4 separate regions of the Homo sapiens genome follow, and regions 1, 3 and 4 are each linked to region 2. The links come from fine-mapping of genetic effects on gene expression. A gene starts in region 2. Each other region holds a variant in brackets. All regions are shown on one strand. Distances are between the middles of the regions.

Region 1 (7,217 bases), 35 kb before region 2:
TCAAGCAATCCTCCCACCTCAGCCTCCCAAAGTGCTGGGATTACAGGTGGGAGCCACCATGCCCAGCTATAATTTTTTAGGTGGGGAAAAAAAAGGACAAGGACATGATGAAGTGAGATGAGGCCCTGCAGCTGCCCGAGACGACGAGTCCCAGCTACTCGGGAGGCTGTCAAGCAAACGGAGCCCGACGGTGGCCAGTGGGGGAGGGGCTGCCCTTGGGAAGGGGGTGGCATGGCGGGGCCAGCATGGGATGCTCACCCAGCGGCATACTCAGGACCTGCGTCCTTGTCTTACTGGACATTGACAGATGCAGCCCCTGGGCTGCCCTGTGACCCAGACTCCCGGGAAAGAATCCCAAAACGAGTGCCTTCAAGACAAAATGGAGCCAAAAGGAGCCAGAGGGAGGGGTCGGGTCCTGCAGAGAGGGGTGGGAGCTGAGCTCCCAGGGGCCAGCCTGAAGCCCCCAATACCAGCTGCCAAAGATACGCCAGGGGCAGCCCTGAGGGAGTCCAGGGTGGGACGCTCTGGTGGGTGGGAGCCCCTCCCTGGCCTCTGAGCCAGCTCCCCCTGCCCGCTGGAACCCAGGGCATGCAGGAGGCCTGGCCGTGAGCTCCTCACAGGTGCCTAGCGTGAGGCCAGGCCAGAGAGTGTTTGCCACTGGCCTGAAGCTGGGGCCTTCCACAGCCCTTCCTGGGCGAGAGCCAGGCTGGAAACTGTAGTGAGACCCAGGCGCAACTCCCCCAAGCAAAGTTGGGGGAGGTCTTCAGACCCCATGTGTGTGATTCACGATGCCCCAGGGGGAGGGGCCTCCAGAAATTAAAATACACAGTAGTCAAAGCAAAACAGAAACACAGAAAAGAACCTAAAAGTAAGCGCTGTGAGGAAGTGGGGAGATGGGGACCCTCACGCCGGCCGGGGGATGGGAACCAGGGCGGCTGCTGTGGAGAACAGGGTGCAAGTTCCCGAGAAAGCTGCACACAGAGGTGCACGTGCCCATGCAATTCACTCTCAGGTGTGCACCCAAGAGAAACAGCTCAAGGGCCAAAGCAGGTGCAAGCACCCATTCACGGCAGCGGCAGGTGGAGCCCGGGCATCCGTTGGCCACGAGGTTGTGAAGAAAAGGTCACCTGCCCACAGCCGGGCATTATTCAGCCACAGACTCAATGAAGTTCTGACTCAAGCTGCAACATGAATGAGCCTGGAAAACGTTATCTTGAATGAGCCTGGAAAACGTTATCCTCGGTGAGAGAAGCCAGACCCGTACTTGGTGATCCCATTTAGATAAAATGTCAAGAATAGGCAAATCCGGGCGGGGCGCGGTGACTCACTCCTATAATCCCAGCACTTTGGGAGGCCAAAGCAGGTGGATCACCTGAGGTTGGGAGTTCGAGACTAGCCTGGCCAATGTGGTGAAGCCCCGTCTCTACTAAAAATACAAAAAATTAGCCGGGCGTTGTGGCAGGTGCCTATAATCCCAGCTACTCAGGAGGCTGAGGCAGGAGAATCACTTGAACCTGGGAGGTGGAGGTTGCGGTGAGCCAAGATCGTGCCATTGCGCTCCAGCCTGGGCAACAGAGCAAAACTCCATCTCAAAAAAAAAAAAAAAAAAAAAAAAGAATAGGCAAATCCGTCGAGGCAGAAAGGAGACCCCCATGGCTCCCCCACAAGGGCTGCAGGAGGGGCTGCCTCCTGAGGGTGGGGGCTCATGGGGAGATGGAATGTTCCGGAACTCAGTAGAAGTGGTGGTTGCACAGCACACGGGGAAGGTGCTCAATGCCACGGAACGTGCACTTTAACGTGGTGGATTTAAGTTTGATGCGACTCTTGCCTCCATGAGAACAAGCACAGTGGTGACCGCCTCCTCCAAGCAGGCAGGTGGCACTGTGGGCGGGCAGGGCAGAGCCTGCCCCACCTGAGGAGCCTCTCGGTCATGAGGCAATGTCACGAGGGCCCCAGAACGCACCCAGAACTGTTCTTGGCCCCCCCCAAGGCCCCGCCCGGCATGTGCAGCACCCACACTTTCACACCCACCTGCCTGGGGCTTCCTGGCCCCCCAGCACCATGCCAGAGGTCACTTTGCTCCATTCCAGCACTGGGGACTCCAGGCTCCCGGAGGCTTCCAGGCCCTAAAGTAGAGGGCAATGCCATCAGAGCCCCCCGCTCGGGAAGACCACACGCCCCGTTCTCTCAGCCTCAGAGCTAGGCCTTGACCTCCCTTGGGGGTCTCAGGCTGCTTCCCCAGAGTCTTGCAGGAATCGGGGTCCCACTTCAGGGGCTGTGAGAGGCAAGGGGGTCCCTCCGGAGCCCCGTTGCACCCAGGGGCAAAGGCGCCCAGGTCTGACCCTGCACCTCACCAGGGCCTCCCCCAGGGAGGCATCCACAGAAGCTCTGGCTTTCTACAGGCAGTGGCAGCGACGCCACGAAGTCCCCAGCCCCCAGCTGCAGCCCTCGCCCGGCCACTCCCTGGAGGACACCAGGGGGCTGGAGGCAGCACCTGAGCGCCTAAGCCTCTGGCCCATGGCTGAGCCGAGTCCCCCCAACCCAACCCCAGCATGTACCCCGGACTGTGCAGAACTGGGGACAAAGGTCACGATGCCAGGGGTGGTCCGGGAGACCACGGGGACCGCCCTGCCGAGGACGGCCTCCCTCTGCTGCCGGTAGACCTCCTGCAGCCTCCGGCTCCTCAGCTCCCGTGTGCGCAGGGCCGAGGCCTTCTCCTCCAGGGCCTGCCGCCGCCGGGCCTGCGCCTTCTGGCGCATGAACTCCCGCAAGGACTCAGAGCTGTGCGAGGGTCCCAGGAGCCCCCGGGACCTGGGGCAGGGCCGCAGCGTGTCCTTCTCCTTCCCAAGTGGGTTCTGAGGGAAGCTCCCGGTGGGCCTTGGCAGGGCATGCTTGGCAGCCGAGACGGGGGAGCCGATGCCTCTGCCCTTGCCCTGGGGGCCGGCCCTCTGCACGCCGGAGCTGCTCCAGGGCCGCTGGGCTGGAGGACTGGGCCTTTCCAGAGGGTTCCGCAGTCTGGGGCCAGGGTCCTCCCAGGTTTCACAGGCAGTCCAGGCCCTCCGTGGACAGGGCTGTGTGGCTACAGCACTCCAGGGCTGCTGGGGGAAGGGGCTCCGCTTTTCAGGGGGGCTCCCAGGCCTCTGGGAGGAGGGGCCCTGTCTTTGGGCCCCCCAGGCCCTCTGCGGACTGCAGGCCTGCCCAGCCAGTGCACTCCAGGGCCTCTGGGAGAAGTGGCCCAACCTCTCATGGGGACTCTCCGGCCTCTGGAAGGAGCGGTCCTGTCCTTGGGCCCCCCAGGCCCTCTGCGGACAGGACTCCCGTGCAGTGGAGGAGCTCCAGGGCTCCCAGGTGTGGACACTCCTAGCCCTCTCTAAAGAGGAATGCTTCCTCTCTGTCATGGCCCAGGGACTCTTAGAGAAGGAGCTCTGGGCATTGGGGTCCCTGCAGCAGCCCCTCCCTGCCACGTCCTGCAGCCTCCGCTTTGATGGCCCGAGCTCTTGCCCTCCCTTGCGGGCCTGGGCCAGCTCCAGCCCAGCCTGGATTTGCTGGCGCAGGTCTTGTAGGATGGCCATGGCCGTCTGTATGGTCGCTGGCTGGTCGAAGGAAGCCAGGCTGGGTGTGTTCCCAGACACCTGCTGGTCACTGT[A/G]GGCGGAGGTGGCATCGGGCAACTGGGCACAAACCGGTGAGCACTTGGCAGCTATGACTTTCTCGCTGTCTCCTGCAAAGACAGGAGTGTCAGGGGTGAGGAGGGGAGCGGAGGGGAGAGCAAAGCCAGCTCCTCCATCCGGGCTGGAGGCAAGGAGTGTGGGGGCGGTGAGGAGGCCCTCGGGCCCCTGCTGGGCAGAAGCCCTCTGAGGGTGGGCACCACGCCTGTGTGATGAGCCACCGCTCTGCACACAGTAGCCAAGCACAGGTGTGCCTGTGTCTGGGGAGCCCCTGCCGGCTCCCATCCTGCCTTCCTGCCAGGAGAGAGCCTCGGCAGCATGCCTGCCCCGGGAACTGGCGATGGAGCCTCCCAGGGCCAGAAACCCTTTTCTCAGGCTTTGAAAACACTTATTGCCCAAAGTCCCCAGTTGAATGGGTGGCAGGTTTGGAGGGTGTTTGCAGGCTGCTGTGAGAGGCGCCAACACCTCTTCCTTCCAGGCGGCCTGGAGCCTGGGTGTCTCCTTCTCTGTGCCCGCCCCCAGATGCCACAGCAGAGCAGGACAGAGCCCATGGCAGAGGCACAGGTACCTAAGTCCACGGTGAGAGCCGGGTCTCTCGAGGGATCCTTGCTATGGTGCCTGCGGAGGACGGGAGGGGGCCCAAGCAGCGACCTCACCAGAGCTTGTCCCTTTCTCCAGGCGTAAACACCAACCAGCTCCGAATCTTAAACAGAGAAAACATACACACAGCCGGGCGCCCCATGGCCCTCTGGGCACTGGCCCGGACGGGGAGGTTGGTGGCTCTGCAAGCGCCAGGAGGCCACTTCAACACTCCCAGAAGGCACCGGGAGGATATCCCTCATGTCCAGGCCCCTGTTGGGCAGAGCGGGACCCTCAGCCTGCACAGGGCAAGGCTGAGTCTCAGGGCGGCCATGGGCAGGTGGCTTCCCTGACCCTCAGAGTCCTCCTCCTCCCTGACCCTCAGAGTCCTCTTCAGGAAATCGTGGACAACAGGACCTGCCCCACAGCTCTGCCGGTGAAGCTCTCAGCACAGGCCGGGCACGCAGCACATGTGAAAGAAACGCCGAGCAGCAGCAGCAGCTGGAGTGACAACCGCGAGCCAGCAGCCCCACCCTCCGCTCCGTGCTGCACATCGGGCTCCGCGCAGCACGGGAGGTCCTGTCACCGCTGGCCACGTGTGCCGAGCCACAGGAGATTAACCTGCTTTTAAGCCAGCAGAGCCAGCAGTCACACGGGTGGGCAGCGGTGAAGGCTCCCCGGCTGGCAGGGCAGGGAGTCCCGGGCATCGCTGCAGCAAACGGCCCCACGTCCCGAGTACAAACGAGCCTTCGCACGCAAATGGCATCATGCAGTGAGTGGCGCTCATCCAGGTGGCACTTCACAGCCCAGCTCACGGCCACCGATGCCAACACCAGCCCCACCAGCCCCGTGGGCCCAGCTGCGAGGGCCCTGGCAAAGGCCGGAGGTAGGGCCAGCCCTGGGCTCACATGCTCACACACTCACAAACACTCACATTGCTCACACACTCACAAACACTCACATGCTCACACACTCACAAACACATGCTCACACACTCACATGCTCACACACACTCACATGCTCACACACTCACAAACACATGCTCACACACTCACACTCACACGCTCACACTCACATGCTTACACACTCACTCATGCTTTCACACTAACATGCTCACACACTCACAAACACATGTTCACACACTCACACTCACATGCTTACACACTCACACTCACATGCTCACACACATTCACATGCTCACACACTCACACTCACATGCTCACACACTCACAAACACTCACATGCTCACATACTCTCACATGCTCACACACTCACACATGCTCACACTCACACTCACATGCTCACACACTCACAAACACATGCTCACACACTCACAAACACACATGCTCACATACACGCTTACACACTCACACTGACATGCTCACACACTGTCACACACGTGCCCACAACTCCCTCACGTGCTCCCAGGCTCACACATATGCACGCCAATGCTGACAGGCACTCGCATGCTCACACTCATGCTCACACTCTGTCACACGCATGCCCTCGCACGTGCTGTCACACATGCTCAGTCACATGCTTTCACATGCTCACTCATGCATTCACACATGCACACACACTTGTACACACTGACATGCTCACACACGGTCTCATCCTCACACACTTTCACACAGACACACATGCTCTCACACTCACACTACCACACACTCGTTCTCACACACATTCAGTCTCATATGCTCTCTGACTCACACGCTCACACACAACCACACACACTCATACACTCATATACACACTCCCTCGTGCTCTCCCACACACACATGCTCATATACACATGCCCTCACATGCTCTCACACACACACTCACACTCATATACACACGCCCTCACATGCTCTCACACACACACTCATATACACACGCCCTCACATGTGCTCTCACACACTCACACGCTCATATACACACGCCCTCAAGTGCTCACACTCACACACTCTCACACTCATACACACGCCCTCACATGCTCTCACACACACATTCACTCACACGCTCATATACACACGCCCTCACATGTGCTCTCACACACACTCACACGCTCATATACACACGCCCTCACGTGGTCTCACACTCTCACGCGCTCATATACACACGCCCTCACATGTGCTCTCACTCTCACACGCTCATATACACATGCCCTCACGTGCTCTCACACACACATTCACTCACACACACTGCTTATTCCACCTGGCTCTGCAGGGCCAACACCACACATGCCAAGGGTCCCTGGCCCCTATGCCCCTTCCTTAGGCCCAGCCCAGGGCAGCTCCACCCCGTGGCCTGGGGTCAAGACCACTGTGGAGTCTCAGCCAGGGCTGGCCCTGGCCCCCATGAAGGGGGACTTTCTGCCAAATGAGAGTGCCTTGGGCAGGGACCATCCAGAGAGCTGAGCACCCAGGGGCAGGCTCCCGGACTGAGTCAGGGACTTCCCTAGCACCCCCCAGACACGGCACCCTCCTCACACTGCCCTGACCCCTGGCCATCAGCCACAGGCCTGAAGCTACCTCTCCAGGAAGGTGAATGGGCTACATGGTTGCACCCACCAGGCCATGCCCTCCCAAAGCCACGTCCCCAAGGACAGGCTTCCCATGGCCACGGCCTCTCCAGGACAGGACCCCAGGCCATGCCCCACACCCACTTTAGGGCAGGACCCCTTAAGGCCATACACTGTCTAGGACAGGACCCCAAGGTAGAGGAAGGTTTAGGGCGTGGTCTCAGGATTCTCAGACCTGGGTTTAAGTCTGGCTCTGCCACTCACCAGCCATGGGCCTCAGGCAAGTGTTTCACTTATCCATGCCTCAGTTTCCCCATCTGTAAAATGGGGTGCCTATCTCACAGCACCTCCCATAGGGCCACAAGAATGAAAGGGCAGTCACGATCATTGCAGGAGTTAGGCCTGGAAGAGGGTCAGGATTCCACTGGCTCAGGGTGGTGTCAAAGGCCGGAGTTGAGGCCAGCGTGACC
Region 2 (7,217 bases):
GGGGTGCATTTTCTGTTTGCCTTGGAGGGACTCCCTAGGATTTACTGGGGACGGCCGATTTGCCCTCCTCATCCTGTTTGGTTTGAGCTGATGTTAAAAGACTCGCCTCCCACCGCAGACCCGGGGGGAGACCTGGGGAGCTGCCCTCGGAAGCTGAGCAGCACAGACTCTCCCAGGCATGTGCACCTGTCTGTACATGTGTGCATGTGTGTGTGTGTGCGTGTGTGTGTTTCCCTGGCACTCACAGCATCACCATCTGCCAGGCTGGGTGGGGCGCAGATGAGGAAGACCAAGGAAGTTCCACACGACCTGCCTCGCCATGATGAGTGAGCGTGAGCTGCCTCCTGTGTGCCCTGCCTGCCCAGAGATCCCGGGGACATCACCTGGCTGACAAAGTCTGCAGCTGCCAGCAGTCGGCCAGGAATGCCGCATGGCCAGGTGTCTCATACTGGCGTGGGTGTCGTGCGGCCTCACGCGGCCCTTGAGCTATTTCCAGGTGTGGGTATCATCTCCCAGCGAGGTGCTCAGCCCTGGGGTGGGACAGACCGTTTCCTTCTGGCTCCCTGCAGAGCTTGTGGGCCCCTCCACCCACCCTGCAGTCCCCAAACTCCAGGGACTTGGAGGTCCCCAAGGAAAGGACATGGCAGTGGGAGATGATGTCATGAGGGGACTTGGGCAATGGGGAGGAACACATGGCCAAGCTGGGAGGAAGAATAAGTTCATTCTCAGAGCAACGAGATTATGTGAACATGGTAAACCCAAGTGTTCTTTTTAAGTGAGATTACTGGGAAACAAAGCTGAAACTGTTCCTTCTGTGTGTGTGTGTGTGTGTGTGTGTGTGTGTGTGTGTGTGTGTGTGTTTGGGTGTCCTTCACTGTCTCCCTCCCCACTCCCGGCCTGCTTCTTCCTTCCCCAGCTTGGAATCCACGGTTGAGGCTGGTCAGGAACCATCAGGACCCAGCATGGGTAATGGCAGCTGCTGGTGCCCTAGCCCCCACTGGGTCCTACAGTAGCTGCTTGTTGGGGAAGGGGCCTGAAAAGGTGGGAGCAGAAGGAAGCCAGGGTCTTGGGGCCGTGGGCTGCCACAGCCACCACAGAAACACTCCAACTTCTCCCAGCCCTAGCAAACCAGTGGAGGTGTGTGCTGGTGCTTTGTTCCTGGGGTGGCTTGGGGCCGCCTGGCTGCCTCTCCCGAGCCTGGCCCTCACCCAGGAGGCCACACCAGCCTCGAGTGCCCACCTCCGTCCAGAGCCCCAGCTCCCCACTCCTGGGGGCTGAGCCAAGAACCCTGTGGCTGTCCCACCGTCGCCTCCCAGAGGCTTGTCCGGCGCAACAGGACAAGGAAGGACTAAGGCTTAGAGTCGGCCCGATCAGGTGACGCCTGAGCTGTCACCGCTGTCACCACTTACACACAGGGTGTGTGGACAAAGTGGTGCGTGCCAGGGAGGGCTAAGTGACCGAGGGCAGGCACGTGGCAGGCTCCTGAAGGTGGAGGTGGCGCTGACAATGGCCACCAGTGAGCAGGGCCCTGTGTGTGCTGGGGCTGACTCCAACCCCTTGGCGCTGCCACGCAGGGGCTTGGGAGGGCCCCTCCCCAGGCACATGGGAGGTGGCCCCTCCCTGACCACGGAGCCATCGTGTCTGCAGAGGCCCACCCTGCGCCCTGTGCTGCTGCCTGGGGCCAGAAGAATAAGTCGATGTGAAATGGCTTTTTCTTTCCTCACCCCCCTTTGGGAGTCAGGCCCGTTAGGAATGGAAGGGGCTGTGCTCCTGGTCCCCTGGGGGAGTGAGCTTCCCGGACTCTTGGGGGGATCTGGTAAGGTGGATGGTGGGAGGCTCGAGGGTGTCCAGAGCCTGATGGGAGGGGGTGGCAGTGGAGGGTCATCCCTCCAGGGTCTCCCTTCTGGATGTGGACACCACATGTCAGGCCTGTCACCTGGCCTTGTCACACTCCATCTCTGGGTCCCCTTCATAGGTTTTCTCGACAGGAGAATCAGGTCCCTGGATAGGAGGAGACGCCCCTCTGTGCAGTGTGGTGGGGATGTACCCCCAATCCAGCCAGGACCCACTGCAGGGGCCCAGCAGGGGCAGGCACGAGTGTGAGAGCAACATGACCCCAGCAGCTCTCGCTGTGTGCCAGGCACATGGACACGCACCACACAAACCCCACCGTGTGCCAGGCACACGGACAAGCACCGCACAAACCCCACTGTGAGCCACTAGGCACATGGACAAGCACTGCACAAACCCCACTGTGTGCCAGGCACATGGACAAGCACCGCAGAAACCCCACGCCTCAGTGACCCTCCACACCTTGCGGGACGGGCAGCCCTCAGGTGACAGAACCGAGGCTCAGAGAGGGAAAGCAACTTGTGCCAGGTCACACAGCCTCATAGCCCAGCTCGGCCTAACAAAGCCAGAGCCCTCGGGGGTGCAGGTTTCCCCACAAGTTCTGATATAATGTTGGGGCTCTCCCGGCCCAGGGACACAAGCTCCCAGCTCTCTGCATCAAGGAAGGAGACCAGGAGAAGCTCCCCCAGCAATGACAGCTACGAGGCTGCAAATCTCTCCCTCCCTCCACCATTTGTGCAATGTCTTTTGTCCCCACTTCTCTTCACCAGCCTCCCACCACTAACCCAGGGGACCCACAAGGGGCTCACAGTGTTGGTGTGGACCCTCTGTGGGCCTCCTGATGGCAGCAGCGCCTGGGGAAAGAGGGCTGAGCTGAGGCCTGGCACAGGCAGGGCCCCCAGCAGCCCCTGCCCTTACAATGGGATGCTGGCTCAGGTGCCCGAAGCCCAAAGGAGGTGGCCCGGAAGGTTGGAGCTTCAATCGAAGGCCTGTTCTCTGCCCGCAGCCAGGCCCAGGGCTGTGGCAAAGGAGGGTGGTGCCCCAGCCAACACCACTGTCCCTGCCGGCCAGCAGCCACGGCCCCGGCTGGAAGGGAGCAAGGCTCTGCCTGGCTTCTGTGGTCTTTGGGGGAGGGCACGTGGGCCCAGCAGGCAGCTTGCGCTGCGCTCAGGGCACAGATGGTTCTCATTCCCGTTGCCTCCCTTACACAGGAAAAACAAACCAGCCCGGGGCCAACAGACCCCTTTTTAACCTCGTGTTTATTTTCCTTCCCATGCTTGAAAACGCTGACTGTCCTGTGGGCGGCAGCTGCTGAGGGTCTTGCCAGGACGGCACTTTCCTGACCTCAGGGCAGCTCTCCCAGGGAGGGGCTGGGGTGCACGGAGGGGCCCCGAAGGAATGCAGCCCATTTCCTGCTCCTGGACTTCTCCGAGTCATACCCGGGGTCGCAGCTGCCTTTCAAGGGCCTGGAGTCTCCTGACACCACCGGAAGGCCCAGGATGCTGTCGGGGGCAGGACAGAACCCGGGGAGGCCGGCTGTGGGCCTCGCTGGCTGCGGAGAACCCCCCAAGCCATCGGGAGCTGAGGGTGGGTGGAGGGGAAGCCACGTCACACCACATAGGCCCACAGGGCTCCAAGAATTCAGAGGAGGAGGAGGAGGCGGTAGGGGCTGGGGTCCCGGGACCCCGGGTGGGCACAGCCTACTGTGCCACCTGCATCCTCCCTAAGCCTGCACAGTGCCCAGGAGGAAGGAAGGGGCAGGCTGCATCCCCATTCCGGGGGAGCTTGGGAGGGGAATGTGGCCACCCAGGGTCTCAGAGGTGGGGGGCTTACCAACCGTCCCACAGGCCAAGCAGAGCCTGTATTTGTCATCGGTGCCCCAGGTTTCTCTAAAGCAGGCAGACAGCATCCCCACGGCCTGCGCCCCATGGCCCAAGGCAGAAGTTTGGAGAAGGGGGCAAAGCCACGTTGGGGCTGCACAGAAGAGGAGGGTAGGACCCCCGAGGCGTAGGGCGCCCACCAAGAAAGGCAAGGAGGCCTCAGCAGCCCCTCCCCACGTGGGTGAGGCTGCGGGGCTCACCAGGCGGCCTGTGGATGAAAGGAGCCCAGAGGCCAGTGTGGCTGCACTGTGACCCAGGGACCCCCGCGGGCCCTCAGAAGTCCCCAGGGGACCAGCAGCAAGGCCAGGCCCAGGCCCTCTCCCCTGCATTCCCTGGGGTGGGGTGGGCTGGGGCCCACACCCCCTCCCCCCTCCCCCCTCCCCGGGGACTGCCCGCCTCACGGCGCCCCTCCCCCCGCGTCCGCCCCGCCCCCCGCAGAGGGAGGCACGCGGCGGTGGCCGCCCGGTCCGCGCCCCCTCCCCGCGCGGGCGGCGGTGACATCACGGCCACGGCGGCGGGAGGGGCGGCGGCGCCCCGCGCACATCACTTCCTCGGCGCCTCCCCGGGGGAGGACGGGCGAACGAGGCGCGGACGGACAGGCGGACAGCAGGGCGGACAGCAGGGAGGACAGCAGGGCGGGCAGGGGGCGGACGGCCACGGCGCGGGGGGCGCTCCCGGCTCCCGCTCCCGCGTCCCCGACCCATGGCGGGCCCGGCCCCGCCCGCGGCCGACGAGCTCCCGGGCCCGGCCGCCAGGCGCCTCTACTCCAGGTAGGACGGGCCGGGGCCGGGGCCGGGGCCGGGGCTGGGACCGGACCGGGCCGGGTCGGGACGCGGGGGAGGCTGCAGTTGGGAACAAAGGCAGCTCTCGCGGGCGCGCAGCGTGGCTGAGGACGCGCCCCTCCCTCCAGGCCGAGCCCAGCCCGGCGTGTGCCCGCGTGGGCGTCCCCTGAAGCCCTCTTTCCCCCAAGCCAAGGGGAAGGGGGTGGGGGGCCGGGGGGCTGGAGGCGGGGTGGGCAGCTTCTCCAGCCTCACTCCCCTGGCACCTGGCAGGGGCACCGTGGGGTGCTTCCCTCCCAAGCCTGGCCCTGCCATGCCCGGGGCACTCAGGGGCATCATGGCCAAAGAGACCTGGCTGCTCTGGATGGGGCTCTGCCCCTCACCAGCCCTCCACGAGCCCAGTGGGATCCAGCTGGGTTGGAAGGGAGCCAGCCAGGTGGGTGTGTACCTGCCTGAAAAGGCATCTACTCTCCGGGCACATTCCTGGGTGATCCCAGTGACTGGGCTCTGTGCCCCACGCCTTTGGGGATGACAGGGTGGCCCTGCCCCAGGTGGCATGCCTGCCTGGTGACTCCCAATGTCCCCCCAGGGGCTGCCCTGGGCCCAGCCGGGCAGGTGCCTGGAGCCCCAAGCAAGGCTGGGTGGTACCAGGCCTCAGGCAGAGCCACACGAGCGTGAGGTCCAGGCAGGGGCTTGCGAATGGGTGGCAGCCGTCAGAGGCAGGCCTGGCTCCCCAGAGCGAGGGACACTATTGTCCTCTGGACATCCCTAAAACCTGGTGACCTCCCTGATAGGGGTCCCAGCAGCTGATCCCGGGGGGCGCCTAGCCTGGCCCCCAAGGATTCTCTGGCCCCAGCCAAGCAGCAAGCCTCTGCCTGGGGCACCCGAAATGAGGTACTGGTGGCGGCACGGCGGACAGAGGCCTTGCTGCCTCCGGTCTGCTCTCTGCTTTGGTCCCAGACACAGCCCCATTGTGCCGTCCTGGATGGAGCGCTGAGCCCCTAGCCTGGCTCCTGGGCCCCACGCAGGGGAGGGGCGTGAGGGTGATTTTGCTGGCAGCTGCTGCCAGGGGCCTGCCCTAAAGGATTTTCAAGGGTTTCCTCCGCTGATCTGATCGGCTGTGCAGGGCCGCATGTGCTCCAGGGCGGCCGTGCTGTGAGGGGGATGGATAGCAGCCCTGGCTGGAGTGAGTTTGAGTGTGAGTGTGTGGAGCTGTGAGAGAGTGTGTGTGTGGAGCTGTGAGAGACGGGTGTCCAAGACCTTAGCCTTGGGTGAGGCCTGCACAGCTGACCATAGAGTTGGGCATTCTCCAGGCTACAGCTAGAAGCCTGGGGTCCCCTGGGGACACGCCAGGCAGGAGCCAGCCCCTGGCAGGGGCAGTGCTCAGGGGGACCACTCAGAGAGACCCCAGACCCAGCCTTGCATCCCCCTAAGCAGGGAGTCCAGTTGAGCTCCAGGGTGGAGTCAGGCCCAGACTTGGGGGAAGCGCGCCAAGCCCTCCAGCAGGGCCTGTGACGAGGTCCCCCCGGGAGTCTGCACCCCACCGTGTAGCCACAGCCCGGTTTGGGCAGGCGGTTCCTGGTCGGAGCTGGCTTCAGAGCATGGATGCCTAGACGTGTTCTGGGCCAGTGGAAGCTGCGGGCCAGACGGGAGGGCCCTTTGCTGTCATGCTGGGGCTGGAGAGCAAGACACGGAAAAGTCTCCTGTCTCCTGAAACCCGAGTGCTGGGGGCGGCCCACCTGCTGGCGTGGGCGGTGGGCATGTGGATGCCCTGGAGGTGGGCGGAATCCGTGTGGGCACTCCTCACGTGGCTGTACTGGGGTCCCTCAATGTGGATGGGGCTCCAGGTTGGCCCAAGGTCTCCTCTGCCCCGTCTACTGCCTTCCCACACTGACATTCCTTCCTGGAGAGAGGAGTTTCAGCTTTTAAAATGGGGAACTGTGCCTGGAAAACACACTGACAGCGAGGCCCATGAATGTGCCCATGAGCCCACTGGGTACCCTGAGGGGCCCTGGGTGCTGGGTCGGTGGGGACGGGCCCCTGGGTTCTGGGTCGGTGGGGACGGGGCCCTGGGTGCTGGGTCGGTGGGGACGGGCCCCTGGGTGCTGGGTCGGTGGGGACGGGGCCCTGGGTGCTGGGTCGGTGGGGACGGGCCCCTGGGTGCTGGGTCGGTGGGGACGGGCCCTTGGGTTCTGGGTCAGTGGGGATGGGCCCTGGGTGCTGGGTCGGTGGGGACAGGGCCCTGGGTGCTACAGTTAATGCTCAGAATTCTGGCCCACTTGCCAGGGGCTCCCTGGCCCAGAGCAGGGCTTTGGGGTGAAGAGGCCTGGCGGGGACAGGCCAGTGGCTGAGAAGGCCCCGGAAAGTGGGGAAACCCTGGGTGGTCGTCTCCTGGCCTCCCACCTGCTTTAAGGCCAGCTGAGTGCTCCCCGGGGCTGGGGCCGGGAAGGGGCAGCAGAGCCACCCACCTTGGGGTGACCCTGTTAGAGATGCCCTCCAAGCAGCAGTCACCAGCTCCCAGACAGGACGTCCTCAGGTGTGGACTGGGCCCCCCGCAACCTCTCTGGCCACATGGCCATGCTACCCCCTACCTTCACTCCATCCTTCCTCCCTCCCCTGTCCCCGTCCTGGGCACCATCCCTGGTGGGTCGCTGGGCAGCGACGGGCCCTAGGAATTCCTGGCAAGCCTGACCCCAGGTGCTTCCTA
Region 3 (7,217 bases), 21 kb after region 2:
CACGCAGCAGATACACAGTAAATGCCTGCTGCTTGGTCACCAGGCTCCTGCCGTGTGCCAGGCACTGCTGGGGCCCTCACTGGCACCAAGACCGCTGAGCCGCGTCCAGCAGCTGATAGGTGAGGAACGGGGAGCCCAGGAGTGAGCCACATGGGATGAGCTTTGGGAGAAAGAAAAGCCCAACAGGGAGGTGCGGACAGGAACGGGGGAGGTGCGGACAGGATCGGGGGGAGGCGCGGACAGGAGCGGGGGGAGGCGCGGACAGGAGCGGGGTGGGGGCGCGGACAGAAGCGGGGTGGGGCGCAGACAGGAGCAGGGGAGGCGCGGACAGGAACAGGGGAAGCAGGCTGCAGCACCTTTGGGAGATGACCATCATGGTCCATTCCGACTGCCCTCACAAAGCACCGCAGGCCGGGGCAGCAACAGCAGACGTTTACTCCTCACGGCTCTGGAGGCCAGAAGGCCAGGGTTTGGGTGCTGTGTGCTCGGGTGCTGGCGAGAGCCTCTTCCGGGCTGGCAGACGGCGCTTTCTTGTTGTGTCCTCACCTAGCAGAGACAGCGAGGAAGAAGGGGGAGCTTGAGAACACTGGTGGCTTCTCTTAAGGCCACTTGTCATTATGGGGCTCCATTCTCATGACCTCATGTAAACCTCAGGACCTCCTAACACCATCCCATGGGGAGTTAGGGCTTTGATCATGATGCTCCAGCAAAGACTGGAAGTCAGAGAGAAGTGAGCCGCAAGCTTAGACGGAGGAACAGCAGTCTGGGCAGAGATAACAGCCTGTGCAAAGGGCCTGAGGCAGGGGCCAGCCTGGTAGGTGAAGGGACAGGGAGACTGTCTGGAGCTGACGGAGCAAGGCGAGGGCCTTGGCCGAAGAAGGGAGGGCCTCGTGGGCCCTTGTGTGAGACCCCCTCCCCAATGGGGCGGGGCCCTCAGGACCCAGCAGAGAAGGGGCAAGGCCTAGGCCAGCCCTTACCAACCCCATGGTCCTTGCATGGAGAGGGGACTTAGGGGCAAGGCTGGGGCAGCAGGCAGGTGAGGGGCAGGTGATCCGGCTCCAGGGAGGTGAGGAGGGGTGGGACTCTGGATCTGCAGTGAGGCGGGGACAGACTGGATTTCAGACCAGAGGTGGGCGTGAAGGAACCGTGGGCAGCTGAAAATCGGGGTTGCTGAGGTCTGAGCCAAGCCGGCGGGGCGGGTGCTGCCCTGAGGGGTCCGGCAGGCACAGGGGGCACCAAGATGCTCGATGGGCTTGAGTTGGCCATTGCACATAAACGTCTGGAGCTGGGTGAGGACAGAAATGATGATGACAGTGTGACGGTCAGCGTCGGGTGGCCATGGGGCGGTGCTGGGAGAAGTTTCCAAACGTTGCCCTCGCAGGCGGGAGAGACAGGAAGCCAAGCCAGTGGGCCGGGCCTGTCTGGGCAGCTCAGCCAAGGGCGCTGGACTCACACTCAACGCCTCAGCCGACTCTGCAGACAGAGGGTGCATTGAGCCAGGCGCAGCGGGCCTTCCGCCCACCGTCCGTGCCTGGCCATGAGGGCGCCCGCCCTGGGGCCAGACGCAGGCTGTGTCTCAGAAGAGCATTTCAGCCGCTGCTGCAGCCAGGGCCCATCCATGCGGTGTCCTGGTGGAGGGCCAGGCCTGGCAGAAGCAGCTGTGCCGGGCCCAGGACCCGGAGGATGCGGTGGGGAAACCAACTTAGGCCCCCATGGCACTGGGGGCGGCAGAGGGAGAGCCAGGCCCTCAGGCAGTGCACACCGGGAGACGGAGCGGGGCTCTCGCTGGGTGTGGTAAGTGAAGGGCCCGCCCCAGCACAGACGTGCTCCTCTGTCATTTCCATGGTGTGGGGAGCAGGCCCCGAACTGTGTGGGGTCAGCAGCTGTCCTCAGAGCTACCTTGCTCATCTGGGTGGGGGTGGGCAGCTGGTGGCCCTTCAGAGAACAGGCCGTCGACCCCAGCCCCGTTCTGTCCCTTCAAGCTGCACCACCCGAGGCTGGGGCGGCTCCACCTCAGTGCCTGGCCGGATCCTGAATGTGCCGGAGCTAACCCTGATCCCGCTGACCACTGTGGCCACAGGGTGGCGATGGGAGCCCTGCCCCGGGCGTTTGTGTTGGGAGTGGGAGGAGCAGTGGACGGCCCCAGGTCCCAGTGTCCTGCTCAGGCCCCTGATGGGCCCCACGTGTGCCTCTGGCCGCACAGGTTTCCATCCCAGGCCCCTGGAGAGCAGGAGCTTAGGGTGTGTCCTCGGAGCCCAGAGGCCAGGCCAGGGAAGCGCACAGCCCACACTCAGCCAGTTCCCGGTCCCTGCCCAGCTCTCATGAAGCTGTAGGCATTCGCCGTGGGCTGGTCTGGGGCCAGCGGGCTGGAGGCGGAAGACCAGCCTGGGCCCCCAAGTCCTCAGCTCCCTCTGCTCCTGTCCCCTTCCCCCCAGCTGCGTTTAGGAGCTCACCATTTAAACGGGTCACATGGACAGACTCAGGAAGGGGCTGCTAGCAGCCAGGCCGATCCAGGGGCTCCCCTCTGCCCCATAGGTAGCACCTTGCTGTCCACCAGGTGCCTTCTTAGCCGTCTGAAGCCCCCAGTGCATCCTCATCACTGCCATTCACTAGGTGGCAGCAGGACCCCCTTCCCAGTTGGGGGTGGAGGCTTGGACTCCATTTGGTGGCACAATGCTCAGACAGCAGCCCCCCAGCAAGACCCAGGCCTGTTCTCATCCGCAGCATGGGCCTGTAAGGGAGACCCTGAGAGACCCTGACACTCGGGCCCATTTCCTCCCTCCCTCATGGTCGGGGCCAGGCTCATATTTAAATCAGGGCCCTGCTGAGGCTGGGGTCAGGGGGATGTTGGCTGAGTGACAGCTGTGCAGGTGAGGCTGGGAGGGGCTGTGTGTGGGGCCCAGTGCCTGAAATGACCGAGTGACTGCCCGCCTGAGCCGGCTCTCTCCCTCTGTGGATGTTGTGTTCCCCGGCAGGGCCCAGAACCCAGGGCTAACGGTGGGGTCCGGGTGCACCTGAGGCCCCGGCACCCTGCCTGGCCATTCATGCTGCTAACTTTGACGAGTGCCCCAACCCTGGTGGCTGTGCTCCCTGATGCAGTGGGGCCTGGACAGGGTAAGGGGGTGTCTGGGCCTGCCCCCCGACATCTGCCTGATGCAGGCAGCCACCAAGCAGCTTCACTTTAGGAGCTGAGCCTCTCGGGGGGATGAGTGCGGAGGGGAACTGCCCGGCCCGGCCCATCCATGCCGGCGCAGTCTGATGAGGAGGGCGCTGAGCTCCGAGGCGTAGTAATGGGGCCAAGTCTGATGGTCTGGAGGTGCCAGGACTGGATTCTCAGAGTGCCCACTGATGCCAGGGCTGGTTCTGGCCCCGCCCTCGGACTCACACTGGGTGTGCGCAGGGCTCCTGGGCACAGCCCGTGTCCAGTGTGTCCACGGGTGGAGGGACGCTTGGTTCCCAGGAAGACTGGGTAAGGGTGGGCATAGGGGGGTGGGAGCTGTGGGTGAGCAGGGAGGAGGATGAGGGTCCTCCCAGCTGCGAGAGTCTCCCTGGAGATGTGCCAGGCGTAGGGACAGCAGAGACAGGGTCCTCAGTGTCAGCCTCGTTCCGCCGTCGTCCCCTCTGCCTAGAACGTTCTGCTGCCCTTTCCACAGTGGCTGTGCCCCTGTCCGTCCCGCCGCCTCCTCAGGGAAGCGCCCGCAGACCCTGGCTCTCAGCCACAGCATCGGGCCCTTCCCACAGGGCTTCCTGCCTGGTTGAGGACATTCCCCACTTCCCGGATTCCATCCCATTTTTTCCGTTCGCCAACTGATTTCTGATCTGCCAGGTCTGT[C/T]GTGCCCTGGATACAGGCTCCTGAGAGTGCTCAGGGAGCGGCTGGGCTGAGGTAGGGCCCACTCTCCCAAACTCCCAAATCCTTTCGGGCCCCGCAGGGCTGAGCGACACCCGTCTCTGCCAGGGCTGTGTTGGGACAGGGCTGAGTGACACCCGTCTCTGCCAGGGCCGTGTTGGGACTGAGGCTTGAAGGTGGGCCTGGCTGTGGGGCTTCCCAGGGGCCCGGGACAGGCACTGGTGGCTCCGCTGAGTCTGCAGCTGGCCAGTGTTGGGTCAGGCAGCTGTGCCCCACCACCCCACTGCGGCTAGAGGGGATGGGGGTCCCTTGGGTGGAGACACGGCCAGTAGGGTGAGCCCCGGGCCAGGAGGGATGGACAGGAGCCCGGGGAAGGTCCCACGGCAGAGCTGGTCTGGGGGATTCATCTGAGGCCTTTGCGTCCCCGACCCTGGCCTGGGCTGCCCGCAGTGAGCTGGGAGTGGACCCACAGGCCCGCCCCACCTGCCTCCGGGGCACAGCATGATGCACCCTCAGGAGGGGGGATTGGGTGGCCTCACAGAGGTGACCAGGGGCCACAGGAAGGGTGATCCAGGCAGAGGGAACAGCAGGACTGACGGGGGAGGCCCTGTGTGCGGCAGGGGAGAGGCCTGTCCAGAGCCGGGCCCTTCCAGCACAGGGAGCCAAAGCCAGACCCCACCTGGCCCCAGCCAGGACGCGCTCTGTCTCGACACCTGTCCCCTTTGACTCTGACAGTACAGTCGGGGAGACGCAGAGGACACTCAGACATGGCGCTCGCCTCCACAAGGGGGGCTGGCTGTCAGAAAGCCATGGCCGGGCTGGTCCTTGGCCCCCCAGAGACTCTGGCCTGGCCCACCCAATGCGAGGTGCCAGGGTGGTGCTGGGCTGACCGGGTCCCTCTGTCTTCAGGGGCCAGACCCAAGAGGACGCAGAGGCTGAGCGCGGAGACCTGGGACCTGCTGAGACTCCCCCTGGAGCGGGTGAGCCAGGGACACGGGACCGATGTCAGCACAGCCGCTGCCAGAGCATGGGCAGCGGGGTTAATGAGGCAGAGCCACCGCCACCCACCTCAGCCCCTGTCTGCTGGGAGATAAATGTGCCCTCCTCGGCCTGATGCCCTGCATGGCCCATCTGCCACCTGCTCACCCATGTCCCTCAGCGTCTGGCCAGCTGTGCCCCAGGCGAGGCATGGTCCTCACACATTTCAGGCCCCCATACTCCACCCAGCTGCTATGCCACCACACCCTCGGGAGCCCACAGACAGGGGCACCCACTCCTGCCTGCTCCCTGCCCTCTCGGACTCTGACCCAAAGTGGGCACAGCTGCTGCAGGTGCAGACACTGGCTGGGGTTCAGCAGACCCACACAGACAGATTCGGGGGCTGCCTGGCGTAGGGCCCTGGGCTGGCCCTGTGCCTGTCGGCAGTGGGTGCTGTGTGGCCTGGGCCAGCAGCCTGATCTCTCTGAGCCTCTGGTTCCTCTGGTGTGGCCTGTGTTCAGTTGTGGATGGCCGTCAGGGTTCTGCTGTGGGGACGAGACCCAAGGACGCCCACAGTCACTGTCATTGCTGGTATAAGCCGGCTGACATTTGCGGGGGCCACTGGCCCTCAAACACCCCACCCTGCCTCTCCCGGCCCCAGCCAAGGGCCCACAGCCCCAGTCCTCTCCTCCTCTCTGGGTACTGGGCACCTACGGCGTGCATCCATGAAATGGAGGCGGCCTGGCCTTCCCTTCAGGGTCCTGGGATGGGGACATTGGTTCACAATTGCCCAGGCCACGCACAGCCTTACCCCTCCCCAGGAGCAGAATGGAGACAGCCACCATTCAGGGGACTGGCGGGGGCCCAGCAGGGACTCGCTACCCCTCCCCGTGAGGAGCAGGAAGTACCAGGAAGGCCCGGACGCTGAGAGGAGGCCCCGGGAGGGCAGCCACTCCCCGCTGGACAGCGCCGACGTCCGGGTGCACGTGCCACGCACGGTAGGCGTCTTTGACGGCAGATCCAGGCCGAGAGGGAGGAGAGCTTGGCAACTGCGCCCCAACTCCACTGCCAGCCAACGGGGCCAGGTCAGGCCCGGGCACTCCGGGGAGGCAGGGGTCCCTCCCCGGTGCACCTGGTGCAGTGCTGTCCTGGGACCCCGGTGGGGGCTCTGGGCAGGGCTCAGTGTTTAGCATTGTGGTCGCACCTGGCCTCAGAGGCCCCGGCCACCGAGGAGCCTCCTGGGGACTCTAGGCTGGGCTCTTCTGCATGGAACGCCCCGCCTCTCTTTGGGCCTCAGTTTCCATCTTGTTCACCAGTTGGGGGCTGGCTCTTCCCAGCCTTCAGGTGGCCTCTCTCTCTGACTCCAGCCCCCACCCTCCTTTGTTGGGACCCTCCAGACCCATCCGCTAGTCACAGGAGCGTGTCCCTGAAAGGAACTGGCTGCCTTCACTGTGAGAGCCGGGCTGCACAGATCCCCTGATGGGGTGCCCCTTCCTGAGGTGGCTCTTGGAGGCTCTGGCCAGTGAGGTCAAGCCTGTGTATCCTACCAGGGCCCTGGAGGGGTGGACGAGGCCAACACAGTCCCTGGGGGAATCCTGGGATCTCTGACACCTGGCGGGGGTCCCTGAGCAGAGGGGCCTGAGGGGCACCCAAGGGGTGGGTGGGAAGCCCCTAAGCCACACCCATGGTCAGGCCCTGGTGTGGAAGCACCTGCAGCTCCAGCTGGGCCAAGGTACTGGGGCCTCTCCTTGTGGGTGCAGGGGCCGGGGCAGGACCGATGGTGAGTGGGGTCATGGAGGGGATGCAGCTGGGTGGCCTGTGCATGGCTGCAGAGCCCCTGGTGAGGGGACAGCAAGGGGCTAGGTCCACTCAGGGTTCCTCCTGGTCAGGGGCTGGGAGGCCCCACCCTGCCCTACCCCACCTGGGCTCAAGGTCACGAGTGGAGCAGAGGGTCACAGCCCAGCAAGCAGCAGCAGCGCAGCCTGGGCGCCACCCGGGTCCTCAGGGCTAGCCAGGAGCCCCCCGCGTTGCTGTGGCACACAGAGGTGGCGGGAGGGGTGGGGCAGTTGCAGTGACTGCCAAGTGTATGGGTGGACGGACGGGGGACAGACAGACTGGTGGTCAGACTCGGGGTTGGTGGGGGGACAGGTGACAGGCCGGGCCTGTGCCTGGCAGGTGTCAGCTGTGCCAGGGCCACCCCAGCCACGGGAGAGCTGGTTGGTGTTCAGGGGCACCGATGGGCCGAGTCCGGGTTCGGAGGTCAGCCTGGAGCTCCCCCGAGCAGGACGGCTGGGTCCAAACCACTAGAAATAGTCTGAAATTGTTCTTCCGTGGGCACCAACCTGCAGAGGGGTGTGGGTGCTGGGCTGGGATTCGCAGCCCCCCGAGGCTG
Region 4 (6,735 bases), 30 kb after region 2:
AAACTGGGCTTGTGCCAAAGCAAGAGAGACTAGAGTCAGACTGCAGGAGGGACTCTGAGGCCTCCGGGAAGGAGGGAGCCAGGGCTTGGGGCAAGGGAGAGGTTAGAGCAGGGAGGCGGAACCCCGAGTCCCACTGGATATGTTCTACTGGGACATAAATGCAGGGGAAGGTGGCCTTGGGGCCCAGGGTCCTGCTTCTGAGGGGCTCCAGGAGCCCCAAACTATCCAGAGCCTTTCCCCGTACCAGGCACTGAGCCACGGTTTTGCACCTGCAGTCGTGGGCCCCTGCCCCCATGTGAGGGAGGCATCAGCCCCTCAACAGCTGGCCCCAGCCTCAGGGAAGGGGAGGGCTGCCCGACATAGGACCCTGAGAGGGGCTCTGCCATGGGGCCTGGGACATGGCCCCTGACGGGTCCTGCCTTTCCCAGGAGGGACCTTGCTCAGTCCACCTGGGCCCCGGGTCACCTGGGGGAGTCCAGATTGGGCCAGAGGCAGAGGCCCCCCGCGGCTGTGCCCTAGGTCATCATAGCCCAGGAGCCAGTTCCTTTTAGACCAGGAGGCCACATCCTCCTGGGGAGGTACCTGTGTGGCCCCAACTGGCACTCAGGCTGGCAACCCCAGTGCCACCCTCTGCCTGGACCTGCAGCTCCCAGAGCCCTGGCCCAAGTGGATGTGGCCCTCCCCACAGACTGGGCCAATTCTCCCCTCCCTCCTGGCTGGGGAATCCGGGGGAGTGGGGGTGTTGCCTTAGGCCTGAGCCAGGCTGCAGGAGGAGAGCCCTGCGGGGAGAAGGGGGTGCTAGAACTCTCCCTCCTCAGGTCTGCCTCAGGGACAGGAGGTACCTCAGGCTTCCGTGACAGCTGGGGACTGACTCCAGGGGCCAGAGCCAGGTGGGGTCTCTCCTAAAACAGGGCTGTCCACAGGGCCCTCGGCTCAGCTCAAGGGTCTGAATCCCAGCTCTTTTTTGCTCCAGCATGACCTTGGGTAGGTCACACATGTCTCTAGGCCCCACTCTCCTGTGCCCTGGGCCGAGTCCAGCAGAAAACTGGAAGCAGGACGGGAGCCCTAGTCCTGGGCTGTGGGGGTCAGGTGTCGGGAATTCCAGTTGTCTGTCAGACAGCTGTCCGTCTCCTGGGCTGTGGGGGTCAGGTATTGGGAATTCCAGGCAGCATCGGGGACCCGGGAGGTGCCATCTCCACCAACATTGCGTCTCTTGTTAACTCGTTCAGCTGTGAGCCCAGCATTTGCAGACCTGGAAGAGGCCACCAGCCGTGAGATGGACAGGCTGGGGCCGGGCAGGGGCTGCCAGCGCCGGTCGGGAGGTGGACGGGGCTTGGAACCATCACAAACACCCTTCAGCCCTGGGGCCCGGACCAGGCCCTGTGAGGCTGGGTCACGGGGTGGACCTGCTTCAGCTGGGCCCCTTGGGGGGCCACAGGAGACCACGCCCTCCAGCCTCCCTTGTTTGGGTGTGTGGACTGAGGCCCAGGGCGGGGTTCATTCCTTCGAGTTCATTCACACAGCAGACACCGGTGAGGGCTGTGTAGGGCATGGACACAGGGAGCTCATGGCAGGGCTGACACAGGGTGTGGTGGGCACAGGGACAGGAGGCACGGGAGGCTTCCCGGGATGTCTGGGAAGTGTTCCAGGCCAAGGCTGGGGAGGCTGGCCCAGGGCAGGTGACGGACAGAGGCCTGGACTGGGGTAGCACCCATGAGAGGGGAGAAGTCCGGGGCAGTCGGCGGGTGCCGAGGGTGAGTGACACGTCCTGGGGGAGGGGTAGCCGGGTGCCGAGGGTGGATGACACATCCTGGGAGAGGGGTAGCCGGGTGCCGAGGGTGGTGACACGTCCTGGGGTAGGGGTAGCCGGGTGCTGAGGGTGGGTGACACGTCCTGGGGGAGGGGTAGCCGGGTGCCGAGGGTGGGTGACACGTCCTGGGGGAGGGGTAGCCGGGTGCCGAGGGTGGGTGACACGTCCTGGGGGAGGGGTAGCCGGGTGCCGAGGGTGGGTGACACGTCCTGGGGGAGGGGTAGCCGGGTGCCGAGGGTGGGTGACACGTCCTGGGGGAGGGGTAGCCGGGTGCCGAGGGTGGGTGACACGTCCTGGGGGAGGGGTAGCCGGGTGCCGAGGGTGGGTGACACGTCCTGGGGGAGGGGTAGCCGGGTGCCGAGGGTGGGTGACACGTCCTGGGGGAGGGGTAGCCGGGTGCCGAGGGTGGGTGACACGTCCTGGGGGAGGGGTAGCCGGGTGCCGAGGGTGGGTGACACGTTCTGGGGGAGGGGTAGCCGACAGGGGGCAGGTTAGAGTCCCGATCTTGGCCAGGGTCTCAGAAGTGTGTGTGGCCTGGGCAAGCAGCCCCCGGTCTCGTCTGGGGGTCTGCGGGGCTAGCTTTGGCTGCGGTGACCCCACTCCCTCCCCAGAGCATCCCGAGGGCCCCGTCTTCGGACGAGGAGTGCTTCTTTGA[C/T]CTGTTGACCAAGTTCCAGAGCAGCCGCATGGACGACCAGCGTTGTCCCCTGGACGATGGCCAGGCCGGGGCTGCCGAGGCCACGGCCGCCCCCACCCTGGAGGACAGGATCGGTGAGTGCCCCCCTCAGCCGGGCCCTCCCTTGGGCTTGTCTGCAGGGGCCAGGACCAGGGCTCCCGTCCTGCTTCCAGTGAGGAGTTTTCGGGGGCAGACCAGCAGGCCAGCTGCAGAGCACCCTGTCACTGAGGGCGCCCTCCGCAGCCCCCACAGAGCAGCATCCCGGGAAGCGTGTCATCAGCCCGCCCTCCGGGACACACTCAGGCTGCAGGGGCAGTCTCAGGGAGGGGGCAGGGCGTGGGGGACTGGCGTTCTCCTCCTGTCTCCTCCTGTCACCCCCTGGAAGCCCCTGAGGTGGGCGTGGGAGCCACAGCAGGGGGAGCAGCTGAGAGCTGCCTAGGCCGGTCAGCGGAGACTCCCCCAGGAGCCATGGCCCCAGCAGCACAGTGGGCTGGGCTGGGCTCAGAGGTCAGAGCTCACTGTGGCCGCAGCCCGAGCCTCGGGCTTGACCCCGCACTGGGTCCCAGGTCTCACCCTCTGGCCCCCCGCAGCCCAGCCCTCGATGACGGCCTCGCCCCAGACCGAGGAATTCTTCGACCTCATCGCCAGCTCCCAGAGCCGCCGGCTGGACGACCAGCGGGCCAGCGTGGGCAGCCTGCCGGGGCTGCGAATCACCCACAGCAATGCAGGGCACCTCCGAGGCCACGGCGAGCCCCAGGAGCCGGGGGACGACTTCTTCAACATGCTCATCAAGTACCAGGTGGGCTGCGGCCCTGGGCGGGCGTGGCTCGCGGCCCCTTTGCCATCCACGTGTGTGGAGGCAACTTGTGTCCTGAGGGGTGAGGTGGGCGCTGGTTCTGCCATCTCCGGTCATGTTTGAGGGACTCCTGGGGGACTCAGCCAGTGTCACCACATGACCAGGGGTGTCTGAGCCTGAAGCCCTACTCCTGGGAACCCCGGGCTGCTGGAGACACCAGAGACCCCCCCTGGCAACCCCAGGACACTCCCAGGCTGTGCCACCCCCCTGCCATGCAGGAACTCGGGGTGGGGGCTGGGGGGTCACAGGTCCTGGAGCTCATGGCCTCAGGGATTCCCCACCAGCCCTCCACACCCGGCAGGGAAAACACGGGCCAGATAGCACCCCCAGAGTGGGGAGGGCAGGGGGATCCAGGGCTGCCAGCTGGCTGGTGGGACAAAAACAGGGACCATCCAGGGACCACACAGTGGACGGCATGGGCGGAGGGTCCAGCCCCAGAGGGCAGAGCCAGGGCCGGGGCTCCAGCCTGGCAGCCACGCCAGGAATGACCTCCTCATCTGTGTGGGGGTGAGCCAGGTAGGGTGGCCGGAGTGGAGACTGCTGAGCCAACTGCTATCCCAACTAGGACCTCAAACTCTGGGGGTCTCGCCATCCCTGTGGGGTGCAGCCATTGCTGGGAAGGGGTTCAGGGTCCGTAGACTTGGGAACAGGCTGGGGGTGGAGGCCGCTTGGCCCACCACGAACCAAGCCAGCACGTTTCCAGGTCTGCCGTCCTCCCCACAGCAGAGAGGAAACCTCGGCCCGGGGCCAGGCGTCCGACCAGCCACCTCCAAACCAGCCCCACCCAAGAGGCCCAGAGTCCCCCATCCACACGCATGCCTGCGCCAGCTCCCGTCCCTCCTGCTCCAGGCGCTTCAGAGAAGCCCAGACAACCCCTTGGCCCCCTGGCCTGCACACTGGAGCAGGCGAGGCCCACGGGGTCAGCCACCTGACACAAGGGGAAGCCCTGGGGGGCGCCACACTTCGGGCTCTGGAAGCTGAGACCTCAGGCCTGCCAGGGTCAGTCCCAGGCTGTGCTGGTTTCCAGGGCTGGGCAGAGGGACGGCCACGCATGCCCGTCCCTGGGGATCAGCAGATGTGGGGAGCAGGCATCCAACGCCGCCCTAGCCACTGTCTCCTGGGCCTGGCACACCCATGCCCAGTGGGAATCGCTGGACCTGCTTTTCCTGGGCGGGCCTGCCCTGGGCTCCTGCGGGTTGGTGGCGGGGCCACCAGAAGACTGCGCTCAGGGCCCGGGCTCCCAGCACAAGACCCCAGAGCGAGGCAGGCCCCAGAACCAATTTCCTGGGTGGACAGGGGGAAGCCCGTGAACAGTGCACGCTGGCCTCTGGAACCACCGCTGCTGACCAGCCCCGGACCACTGGGGCTGGGGGGGTGAGGCCGCCAACTGCACTGTGTCCACCCAGTCCTCCAGGATCGATGACCAGCGCTGCCCGCCACCTGACGTACTGCCCCGGGGCCCTACCATGCCGGACGAGGACTTCTTCAGCCTCATTCAGAGGGTGCAGGCTAAGCGCATGGACGAGCAGCGGGTGGACCTCGCCGGGGGCCCGGAGCAGGGGGCAGGCGGCCCGCCCGAGCCCCAGCAGCAGTGCCAGCCTGGTGCGAGCTAAGGCCCTGTGCCCACCGCCAGGCCCACCCTGCCCCCACTCCTGGACGCCGGTCTCACAGTCACAGCCACGTCCTCCCGAGGCCATTGCCGAGGACAGGCACTGGGCATGCAGCCCCACGGCCTCCCCGACCCAGGGCGACAGGCTCAGGCCAAGCTGCCCGTGGTGGGAGGGCGTGCTTCCATCCCGGGCTGGCCCCCATGGCCCTCAGCTTCCTCCCTTCTGCCCCTGCCGCAGGCCGGACGGGGCCTTCGGCATGTCGGCCCCGACCTGGTGCTGTCAGACTCCCGCATCCTCTCCCCCAAGCCCTTCCCGTTCTGCCCTGCCCTGCCAAATGTGAAACCCTGCTGTCTCCCCCACCCTCCCCAAAGGTGTCTCTGAGCCGCCTCTTGGGGCCACCAAGGACAGGGCCATGTTCTGTCCCCCCAGAGCTGGTCTTGGGATGGCCGTGTGACAGGCATGCTCCACCCCTCCAGCTTCGTCCTGGGGCAGGGCTCCCTCCAAGCCTGTCTCCCCACTCCCCGGCCAGAGGTCAGCAACCACAGAAGGCCCCCCAGACCACGCATGGCAGACCAGGCTGCAGTGGCAGCCCTGAGGTGCCCCCCGCCGAGTCCCAGGGCCCTGCAGGGGCCTCGACAGGAGCCGGGCCTATCTCTAAAGCAGAGGGAATGGCTGGGCATGAACTTCGACATTCCAAAACCCCAAGCCAGGAAAAAGGGCAGGGCCTGGTCCTAGGGATGCTTACTGGCAGCAAGAGCAGTGCCCAGTCAGGGTGGGAGGTAGCACCAGGCTCTGTGACCCTCACCCAAGTGGGGGGGTGGTCAGTGGAAGCTGGGGAGGCTTCACTCAGCTCAACCCTGCAGACCCCCCATATGAGAACCCCCCTCCTCCCACCAGCTGGGGGAGATGACATCACTGCTCTCTCCATGGGGAGGGGGCTCACAGGGCACCAAGTTCGGGATCCTAGGACTGGCAGGACCTGCTGGAGCCTGAGATGGGCCCCAGGGGCCTGAGGTTGCCTCCTCCTGTCCAGACCCAGCCTTGGCACCTCCCAAGACTGCCAAGGGCCCTACCATGGCCCCACAGCCCCCAGGGCTGGCAGTTCCATCTAGGAGGGTGCCTCTAGGCCCCACTCTCAGGCTAGGATGGAGAGGCAGATCTGGGCCTGGTGAGGTGACCTGCTTCTGGAGGGGCAGGGCCGCACCCGAGAGCAGGGACAGGTGCCCGAACACAGGGTCTCCAGGACGTAGCGCCCCCCCGCATACTTGAATGTATGTGCGTATTTATTGCTCACGTCTGTGCCATGTTGTCAATGGGTCCTTTCCAACCCAAGAGGTACATTTGTTTTTCTGTTTTTCCTGAAAAATAAAGTCGGCCAAGTGAGTGTGGTCCGTATGGGCTTAGTCCCGGGTGGGGGCCTAACCCGGTAAGAGGCTGCACTGTGCAAAGTGTCCACAGATACCCACTGTCTGGGCCCTCTGAGACCTCAGAGAGATGGAGTTCCCACTGCATTTAACCACGGGGGAGCTGGGGCACAGAGGGGTGAAGTGGCTGCCTGCTGTCACCACTGATTCCTGCACCCCTACCTCCTCACGCTCCCAGCCCCTAGGGAAACAGAGCATGCTCTGAGCTGACACTCACGTGGCCGGGACCAGCCCCCAGAAGCAGCAGCCCCCAGGTCAGCCCCACGACCCCCTGAGGACCCAGCCTGCTGCCGCCCACCCAGCACCCGGGGGAGGGAGGTCCTTTCCTGGAGTCTGATCCGGCTGGGCTCAGGGTCTGGACA

What was found. PIP is the estimated chance that this variant, and not a neighbour inherited with it, causes the effect.
Region 1: its variant is the best candidate, but not a certain one, in a credible set for the expression of GPSM1 in cerebellum (GTEx, PIP 0.52).
Region 3: its variant is the best candidate, but not a certain one, in a credible set for the expression of GPSM1 in whole blood (TOPMed, PIP 0.62).
Region 4: its variant is the best candidate, but not a certain one, in a credible set for the expression of GPSM1 in sigmoid colon (GTEx, PIP 0.89).

The regions. Positions count from the first base shown.
Region 1 is chr9:136,287,928-136,295,144 of GRCh38, forward strand. It overlaps CCDC187 (coiled-coil domain containing 187), which reads right to left. Exons shown (of 26, transcript NM_001378188.1): 5 at 4,234-4,368; 6 at 2,559-3,718; 7 at 2,032-2,126. Among named protein-coding and RNA genes, the nearest start is that of CCDC187, 13 kb to the right of the region's middle. The variant A/G (reference allele first, on the strand shown) is at 3,647.
Region 2 is chr9:136,323,263-136,330,479 of GRCh38, forward strand. It overlaps GPSM1 (G protein signaling modulator 1), which reads left to right and starts at 4,277. Exons shown (of 14, transcript NM_001145638.3): 1 at 4,277-4,501. The coding sequence starts at 4,434. DKFZP434A062 (a long non-coding RNA gene) reads right to left here and starts at 4,061. Exons shown (of 1, transcript NR_026964.3): 1 at 1-4,061. RefSeq lists enhancers at 654-1,280, 1,281-1,909, 4,439-4,968, 4,969-5,497 and a silencer at 3,111-3,405.
Region 3 is chr9:136,343,941-136,351,157 of GRCh38, forward strand. It overlaps GPSM1 (G protein signaling modulator 1), which reads left to right. Exons shown (of 14, transcript NM_001145638.3): 10 at 4,757-4,827; 11 at 5,647-5,823. Among named protein-coding and RNA genes, the nearest start is that of DNLZ, 16 kb to the right of the region's middle. RefSeq lists enhancers at 1-460, 994-1,647, 1,648-2,301. The variant C/T (reference allele first, on the strand shown) is at 3,833.
Region 4 is chr9:136,353,269-136,360,003 of GRCh38, forward strand. GPSM1 (G protein signaling modulator 1) reads left to right here. Exons shown (of 14, transcript NM_001145638.3): 12 at 2,422-2,578; 13 at 3,074-3,282; 14 at 4,746-6,333. The coding sequence ends at 4,952. It overlaps DNLZ (DNL-type zinc finger), which reads right to left. Exons shown (of 3, transcript NM_001080849.3): 3 at 6,215-6,735. Among named protein-coding and RNA genes, the nearest start is that of DNLZ, 7.1 kb to the right of the region's middle. The variant C/T (reference allele first, on the strand shown) is at 2,466.